2 separate regions of the Homo sapiens genome follow, and region 1 is linked to region 2. Evidence: fine-mapped expression QTL. A gene starts in region 2. The other region holds a variant in brackets. All regions are shown on one strand. Distances are between the middles of the regions.

The links. PIP is the estimated chance that this variant, and not a neighbour inherited with it, causes the effect. A credible set is the group of variants that fine-mapping cannot tell apart.
Region 1: its variant is the best candidate, but not a certain one, in a credible set for the expression of TAS1R3 in memory regulatory T cells (Schmiedel 2018, PIP 0.55).

What each region holds. Positions count from the first base shown.
Region 1 is chr1:1,299,261-1,303,509 of GRCh38, reverse strand. ACAP3 (ArfGAP with coiled-coil, ankyrin repeat and PH domains 3) reads left to right here. Exons shown (of 24, transcript NM_030649.3): 3 at 229-348; 4 at 535-588; 5 at 1,464-1,522; 6 at 2,818-3,001; 7 at 3,308-3,352; 8 at 3,442-3,537; 9 at 3,605-3,679; 10 at 4,154-4,165. Among named protein-coding and RNA genes, the nearest start is that of SNORD167, 3.4 kb to the left of the region's middle. RefSeq lists enhancers at 1-537, 538-1,137, 1,138-1,739. The variant G/AG (reference allele first, on the strand shown) is at 2,252.
Region 2 is chr1:1,329,487-1,333,735 of GRCh38, reverse strand. It overlaps TAS1R3 (taste 1 receptor member 3), which reads right to left and starts at 2,456. Exons shown (of 6, transcript NM_152228.3): 1 at 2,200-2,456; 2 at 1,798-2,098; 3 at 930-1,712; 4 at 612-815; 5 at 357-477; 6 at 1-230. The coding sequence starts at 2,390.

The DNA of each region.
Region 1 (4,249 bases), 30 kb after region 2:
GGTCCCTCCCAGCCGAGCCGTGGCGGCCCCACCCTCCCCTCCCAGACGGGCCTCCAAGCCCCAGGCAGGCCCAGGCGTGAGGAAGCTGCACCGGGGCACTGAGTCCTGAGTGCCAACGCCCTGAGTGGAACCTACCCTGGGAGCTCTTCCTGCCTCTGAGTGGCCGTGTGTGGTGGCGAGTGCAGGCGCCAGTGCCCACTGTGCTCACCACGCCCCGCTGGCCCACAGCTGGTGAAGCTGTGCAGTGGCATGGTGGAAGCCGGTAAGGCCTACGTCAGCACCAGCAGGCTTTTCGTGAGCGGCGTCCGCGACCTGTCCCAGCAGTGCCAGGGCGACACCGTCATCTCGGTGAGGGGCCGACTGACCTCTGACCTCAAGGTGGGGTTGGGGGAGAGGCCGAGGGAGGCAGCCCCTTGAGGGCGTCCAGGCCAGAAGCAGGCCGGTGTCTGCACCGCCCAGGGGCTCAGAGGGCGTGGCTGGGTGACCTGGGCCCGGATTTGCCATCTCAGCACGGGTTCCCATCTGCTCCTCCAGGAATGTCTGCAGAGGTTCGCTGACAGCCTACAGGAGGTGGTGAACTACCACATGGTGAGCGCGGCCTCCCTGCCACCTGTGGGCTGTGCCTGGCCTGGAACCGAGCTGCGCTGGCTCACCTGAAGGCCGGCGTCGGGTTGGGGGGGGCACGTTTCTGCTCCTCTAGTCGGGGGGGGGGGGAATCCCACATTTTCAAGTCAGTGTGGGGTTGGGGGACAGCCCTGGGGGCTCTGCCGTGTCCCAGGCAAGGGCCACACTAGACCCTGGGGGAGGGGTGGTTTATCCAGGGTTCCCCCAACTGGGCAGGGCTCTCGTCCCAGGCTGGCCTGGCTGCCATTTGGGTCTGGGTGGCCCCCGGGGGCCCTGGCACTGACGTGGATGGACACACAGGACAGGCACCCGTGAGATGTGGGGCTGCAGCCTGGGAACCTGAGCCGCAGACTGAACAGAGGAGGTCCCGAAGTAGACAAGGCAGGATGGCTCAGCCGTCCCTTTGCTCCTGGTTGTGCCCGGTCCTTCTCTACTTCGGGTTCCGATTCAGAGCCCAGGCTCCAGCTCCCCAGGCCCAGCCCCTGGGTGCTCCCGGCTCTGGCTGAGTGCTCCCTGCTGCAGGGATGGGCACCCCAGGGTGGCCGCCCAGGGCCAGGAGGCAGTGGGGCTCCGGCTCAGGCTGTGATGAGGCAGCCTTGGCCTCTGCACTCATCAAGGGCCAGGTGGGACAGAGGGGCAGGGGTGACAGCCATCGCCTCTGAGTGCCAACTCAGGCCTGGGGGCTGCTCCCCTGACCCCCTTGAGGCCAGCCCTGCAGGGTGGGACCCGCCCCTGCATCTGGGCCTGGGGGCAGTGCCCTCTGCTGGTGAGGATGGGGCCTTCCATCTGGGGCTCTTTCGGGACAGACCCCAAGGATCTCTGCCCGCCTCTGCCCCCAGATCCTGTTTGACCAGGCCCAGAGGTCCGTGCGGCAGCAGCTCCAGAGCTTTGTCAAAGAGTGAGTGGCCCCCAGGGCTGGGGGAAGAACACTGAGGCCACGCTCCCTCCCTTGGAGGGGAAGGGGGTCTGGGGCAGAGCAGAGGCACCTTGGGCCCAGGCCTCCAGGCTGTGCAGCGGCTCCACAAGGCAGAAGGCTCAGAGGCAGACAGCCGGGTGGAGTGCGGGGGGTTCCACACCCTGCATGTGTGGGTGGGGTGTCCAGCCCCCACAGCAGAGAGGTCCAGTCCACGTTGGGTTTGGGGGTCTGGAGTCTGGGGCATGGCTGGGGTCTGGGCTGGACAGATCTTGAGAGTGAGGTGGGGAGGGGCTGGGGAGGCCTGGAGCAGATGATCGGGGTCAGCAGGGGTGCGGGCAGGCCTGGGATAGGCTGGTGAGGAAGGAGGCTATGCCCAGGAGCAAAGAAAGGGCCTGGAGTGGAGGGGGGTGGGGCTGGGCATGGTGGCTCACACCTGTAATCCCAGCGTTTGGGAGGCCAAGGCCAGAGAATGCCAGGAGTTTGAGACCAGCCTGGGCAACGTAATGAGACCTCCATCTCTACAAAAAAAAAAAAAAAAAAAAATTAGATGGGCATGGTGGCACGTGCCTATGGTCCCAGCTATTCAGGAGGATGAGGTGGGAGGATCAGTTGAGCCCAGGAGGCGGAGGCAGCAGTGAGCCATGATTGTGCTACTGCACTCCAGCCTGGGTGACAGAGAGAGACTCCATCAAAAAAAAAAAAAAAAAAAAA[G/AG]ACACCCCCAAGAACCAAAAATAAGCCTTATATGGTGGCACGCACCTGTAGCCTCAGCTACTTGGGAGGCCGAGGTGGGAGAATTGCTTGAGCCTGGGAGGTAGAGGCTGCAGTGAGCCATAACTGTGCCACTGCACTCCAGCCTCCAGCCTGGGCAACAGAGACAGACCCTGTCTCAAACAAACAAAACCAGGCCAGGCGCAGTGGCTCACGCCTGTAATCCCAGCACGTTGGGAGACCGAGGTGGGTGAATCACCTGAGGTCGGGAGTTCAAGACCAGCCTGACCAACCTGGAGAAACCCCATCTCTACTAAAAATACAAAATTAGGCCTGGTGGCGCATGCCTGTAATCCCAGCTGCTAGGGAAGCTGAGGCAGGAGAATCACTTGAACTCGCGAGGCAGAGATTGCGGTGAGCCGAGACAGCACCATTGCACTCCAGCCTGGGTGACAAGAGCGAAACTCCGTCTCAAAAAACAAAAAACACACAAACAACGATGTGGGAGACTCCAGGATCCAGCAGGTGCCCTCCCTGATCTCTCACCCCACCTGGCACTTGGCCTCCAGGGATGTGCGGAAGTTCAAGGAGACAAAGAAGCAGTTTGACAAGGTGCGGGAGGACCTGGAGCTGTCCCTGGTGAGGAACGCCCAGGCCCCGAGGCACCGGCCCCACGAGGTGGAGGAAGCCACCGGGGCCCTCACCCTCACCAGGAAGTGCTTCCGCCACCTGGCACTGGACTATGTGCTCCAGGTCAGCCCCAGAAATGGGCTGGGGGGCGGGGACCAGCTGTAGCGAATGGAGGCCTCAACGGCCTTGTACAGAACTGGAGGGATTTTGAGCAGGAGTGACGATTCTTGCTTTGCCCATGGGTGGGAACTCCAGACATGGGGAAGCAGTCCAGGACCATGGGAGGATGAGGCTGGCCCAGAGCTGGGAGCTGAAGACGACCTGGGGGTCTCAGGGAACCACAAGCAGCTCAGGTGGACTCTATGGCAGGTGCAGGGCTTGGGGCTGCCTCAGCCTCCGGGGCTCACCTGTGGGCTCCCCCTCTGGCAGATCAATGTTCTGCAGGCCAAGAAGAAGTTTGAGATCCTGGACTCTGTGAGTGCGTGGGGGCTGCCCCTGAGCACAGGCTGCATGTTGGGGGCTGGACCGGGTGTGCTTGGGCCTCACCTGTGCTGCCCCCGCAGATGCTGTCCTTCATGCACGCCCAGTCCAGCTTCTTCCAGCAGGGCTACAGCCTCCTGCACCAGCTGGACCCCTACATGAAGAAGCTGGCAGCCGAGGTGAGCCTTTGGGAGGGGTGGGGCTGGGCCAGGCCTCCGTGACCTTCCCTAATGCCACCCCCAACAGCTGGACCAGCTGGTGATCGACTCTGCGGTGGAAAAGCGTGAGATGGAGCGAAAGCACGCCGCCATCCAGCAGCGGGTGAGGCCGCGCAGCCGGCTCCCTGCACACCAGGCGCCTGGGAGGCCCCTGCGTCCTCACCCCATGCCCGGCACACCCTCCCCGCCCCTTCCTCCTGCCTGTCTCCCACCTGCCCTGCCCACACCCTCTCTAGGGGACCAAGGCTGCTCCCTTTGATGTGTGCAGTGGAGGGGCACGTGTGGGTGGGGCCGCTGCTGGGATCTCCTTTTGAGGCGGTGGTCACCTCTGTGGCCTCAGTCACTGGCTCCTTGCGGGGCCTTTGCTTGCCTGTGGGACAGCAGCCCCGGCCACCATCCCGGGCAGAGGTTGGCTGCAGGCAGGAGTGGCTATTTTGGGATAGGGGAGAGCCCCCCAGGAGTTGGGGACGGGTCCACCAGTCACCAGGAGTTGGGGACGGGTCCACCAGTCACCAGGAGTTGGCAGCCGTCACTCACTGGCTTTCTCCCCCTACCCCCTCCTGCTCCGGCCCTCCAGACGCTGCTGCAGGTAAGTGAGCACGGGCCCTGGGCGGGCTGTGGGTCGGGGGAGACCAGATGGGGCGGTGCCTTTCCCTCCTCTACCCCAAGGGCA
Region 2 (4,249 bases):
GCCAAAGCAGGCCAGGGGCCCCCCCGAGGCCTGAACCAGTGGGCTGTCCCGATGGTGAACGAACAGCCCCAAAGCAGCCAGCACAAGGCCCAGCGCCAGGCTCAGCAGCAGGAGCAGCAGCAGCACAGCCGGCTCGCCCCATGCCAGGAACCGAGACCTGCGGCGGAAGCAGCGTGTGCTTCGCTCCGGGGACCACTCATCCTGGCCACAAAAGGTGCAGGCGATGTCGTCTGTGAGAGAGGAGAAGGGCGCTGGGTGTTCGTCTTGTACCCTGTGGGCTCTGGTCTCAGAGTCAGGACTTGGCAGGACCCTCCCCTGCTGCGTTCCCACCCCCGCCTGCCGGGAAGGCGGCTCACCTGGGTTTTGCCGGTAGCTGCCCGCCTCGCAGTCCACACAGTCGTAGCAGCAGGAGTGGAACCCCTTGACCCGGCGCACCTGGCCCTCCTGGCACTGCCGCGAGCACCGGGACACGGGCTTCTGCGCACAGGCCTGGGGTCTGGCTCTGCTCGGCTGGGCATGCCCACGGGAGACTGGAACGGCCCCCACCCCCAGGCTGCGCCCTGCCGCGGGGGCTACCACGGGCACGCCTGGCACACCCACCCTCACCTCACCTGGTTGTCAGACGTGTGCCAGCGGATCTTCAGGCGCTCTGTCCTGAGGCTGCCGTTGAACCTGCCCACGTCGTGGAGCCTGGGCACTGAGCCCTGCCACACCCACAGCTTCAGGTCGTACTCCATGTCCACGTTTCCGCTGCTGTCGAACCGCAGCGGCAGCCCGCCCACGTGGAAGGTCAGGTTGTACATGTTCTCCAGGAGCTGCGGGCGGGGGACGGGGCTGAGCCGCCAGCCACCTCCAGCTCAGGCGTGGTGGCCGTGCCTGGTGGCCTGGGCACATGCAGAGGACAGCACACCCCCATCTCCCGGGCTCACCTGCCAGGGCTTCACGGGGTCCTGCGCGGGGCAGCCTGAGGCGTTGCACTGAAGAGTGTTGTGCAGGGCCTGGGCCACGCTATACACAGCTGCGTAGACAGAGAACGTCTGGTGGTGATTTAGCCCTGCGCTCACGTTCTGCAGCGTGATGCAGTCACACTGCGGGCAGCGCTGGCCCACCACGTCCTCCTCCAGACCCTGCTCCCTCTCGCCCAGGGCAGAGCAGAAGGCCGGGTCGGTGGCCAGGGCCAGGTGCGTCTTCACGTACTGGGGGAACTCGTGCAGCTGGGCACCCCTCTGGAGGAAGCCAAGCACCGTGCCCATCTGGGCCATGCCGGGCAGCCCCATGACCAGGTCAGAGGTCAGCCAGGCCTCGCTGGCCACCCACACCTTGGGCGAGAGCCTGCTGCTGATGCTGTAGTTGAAGAGGGCGTGGGCGGCGTGCACGGAGGCGAACAGCAGCACCACCTGCACGCTGCTCTGGTTCACCTGGTGCAGGACGTCCTGCACCTTCCCCAGCCGCGAGTCATCGGCACGGGGCAGCGGCACCAGGCCCTCGTGCGCGATGCAGATGCCGCGTGCCGCGGCCAGGGCCGAGAAGATGCTCAGGCCCTGCCGGCCGTACTCGTCGTCGCTGCCCAGGGCGGCCACCCAGTTCCAGCCGAACTCCTGCAGCAGCTCCGCGGCGGCCGTCAGCTGCACACGGTCGCTGGGCACGGTGCGGAAGAAGGAGGGGAAGGTCTCCCGGGCGCTCAGCAGCTCCATGCTAGCACCGTAGCTGACCTGCAAGGGCCAAGAGGCATCTCCTGACACAGGGGCTCCCACGGGCAGGGCTGGGTGGGGGTGGGTGATGGTGGGGGGCGCCCACCTGGGGCATGAGGAAGAAGCTGAAGAACTTGCCGGTGACCATGGCGAGCTCTGACGAGTGGGGCCCGATGACAGCCAGCACACGGGGCTGGTACTGCGTGTAGTTGCAGTAGGCGGCGATGTCGCGGCTGCCTGCCTTGGCCAGGAACATGAGGCTGGGCTTCATGGCCACCACAGGCTCCGAGCACGTATCAAAGAGGTCGTAGCCCAGGCGCAGCCCGGGCAGCAGATCCGACTTGTTGTTGATCTCCTCCACGGCCATTTTCATGGCCAGTGCCCAGAGCAGGCCGTTTGAGGAGAACCTGGGGCCACACAGAACCGCAGATGGCCACCTCGGCCCCAGCTCAGGAGCACCCCAGACCTGGTCACCCTGACCCCGACCCAGGCCGTCCCACCTCTGTACCTGGTGCACACAGGGCTGCTGGGCCGTGTCCGGCTGCGGAGGCCAGCCTCCTCGGCCTCGCCCAGGGGGAACAGCCCCCCCAGCACGTAGTCCCCCTTCATCCTAAGTTGCTGTGACAGGCACAATGGGGCCCCCGTCCCAGGGTGCAGGAGAGCCCAGAGGCTGAGGCCCAGGACAGCAGGGCCCAGCATGGCAGAGGCAACTTCCAACAGGCACGGCAGGTGGCTGCCCCGACTGGGGCCTCACATGGAGTGAGCCCGGGGCGGGGAGCGGGCAGAGGATTTGTTTAGCAAAACCCTTGCCATCCTCACTTGCCACACCCTGGGGCCCCAGTGGTGTCCTCGCTTCCTGGGCCTGAAAGTTTGTGCGCGTCAGACTCTGCCTGAGGCCACTGCCAGGCTCTATGGCCAGCGTTGACCGGCAGGCAGGCTCTGCTCAGTTGCTGGCCGTGGCCTTGTTCCCTGCCTGTGGCTGAGCCCCTTGCCACCCCCCGATTCCTGGAGTTGCCCAGCAGGCTGTGGAGAGGAGAGGGGGCAAAGGGGCCTCCAGGGCTCTGAGGTCTCAGCTGCGTGGGAGGGATGCAGAGACACCCAGCCCTGGGGCTTTTCATAAGCACAGAAATGCCTCCTACCCAGCCCCGGGAGCTTCTGGCTCCCACTCAAGGCTGTGCTGGCCGGAGCCGGGGGCAGCAGGGATGGGCCCCCTAGGCCTGCAGACCAGTCAGGCCAGTGGGCAGCCGGCCAGCCAGGCCTCCACCCTGCAGCTGGGGAGGGCCCTGGGGTGGTGGTGCTGCCCTCCCAGTCTGCTTGGGAGCAGAGTTCCTTGAGGGTCTCAGCCCTTCTGCCAGAGTCTGACGCCTGGAAGCTGTAGGAACCGCATGGCCAGCTGTACTCACACTGCTGACCCCCGTCTGGGCCACTCCTGCGTGGCAGGCACACAGGTGGCTCCTGCTGGGGGTAGAGTTTGTTTGCCAGGGGGGCACGCAAACAAGGGAGGAAGGGCCACAGGCAAATGAGCGGCAGCTGGAGCAGCACCAGGTGTGCAGGGCCGGGACTCCTCTGCCTCTGTGTTGCTTTGGGGGTGCCCTCGGGGACACAGCAGACTCCAGGCGCAGGCCCTCCCAGGGGAACTGGGGGGCACTCAGCTTCAGCTAGGGCCTGGCAGACCTAGCAGATACCAGGAGGTGTGCCCTGGCTGGTGCTTCTTCCCCATGGTGTTGTGAGGAGGACCTGTGAGGGACACACACTACCACCGCACATGCATATGGCACATGCTGAGCACACGTGAATATGGCGCACATGCGAACCTGGCACACGAGCACAGGAATGCGGCACACACACAAACGGCACATGCGCATGGTACACGCGAATGGCACATGCACGGCACACGTGCATGGGACACGCACGGCACACGCAAGGAACACATGCATGGCATGCAAACGGCACACATGCATGCCACACGTGCACAGCATACATGCAAATGGCACACGTGTACGGTGCACACGAATGGCACATGCGCATGGTACACACAAATGGCACACGCACGGCAAGTGCATGGCACACGCGCATGGCACACACAAAACGGCACATGCAAATGGCACACACACGGCACACACAATACACACGGAAACGGCACATACACAAATGCCACACATGCATGGCACGCAAGCAAACGACGTGTGGCACACGCGCATCGCACGCAAATGGCACGTGCATGACACAAATGGCACATGCAAACAGCACACACATGGTACACGCAAAGCACATGGCACGCACATGCGCACAGCATACGCTCACAGCACACACGGCATACACAAATGGCACACATGCACGTGGCACACGTGCACGGCCAACACGCAGCACATACGTGCATGGCACATACACGAAAACAGCACACGCTCACGGCCAACACGCATGGCACATGCAACTGGCACCTGCACATTGCACAGATGGCACACATGCACATGGTACATGCAAACAGCACATGCAAACGGCACACGTGCGGCACACGCAAATAGCACACTCGCACTTGGGACACGCAAACGGCACAA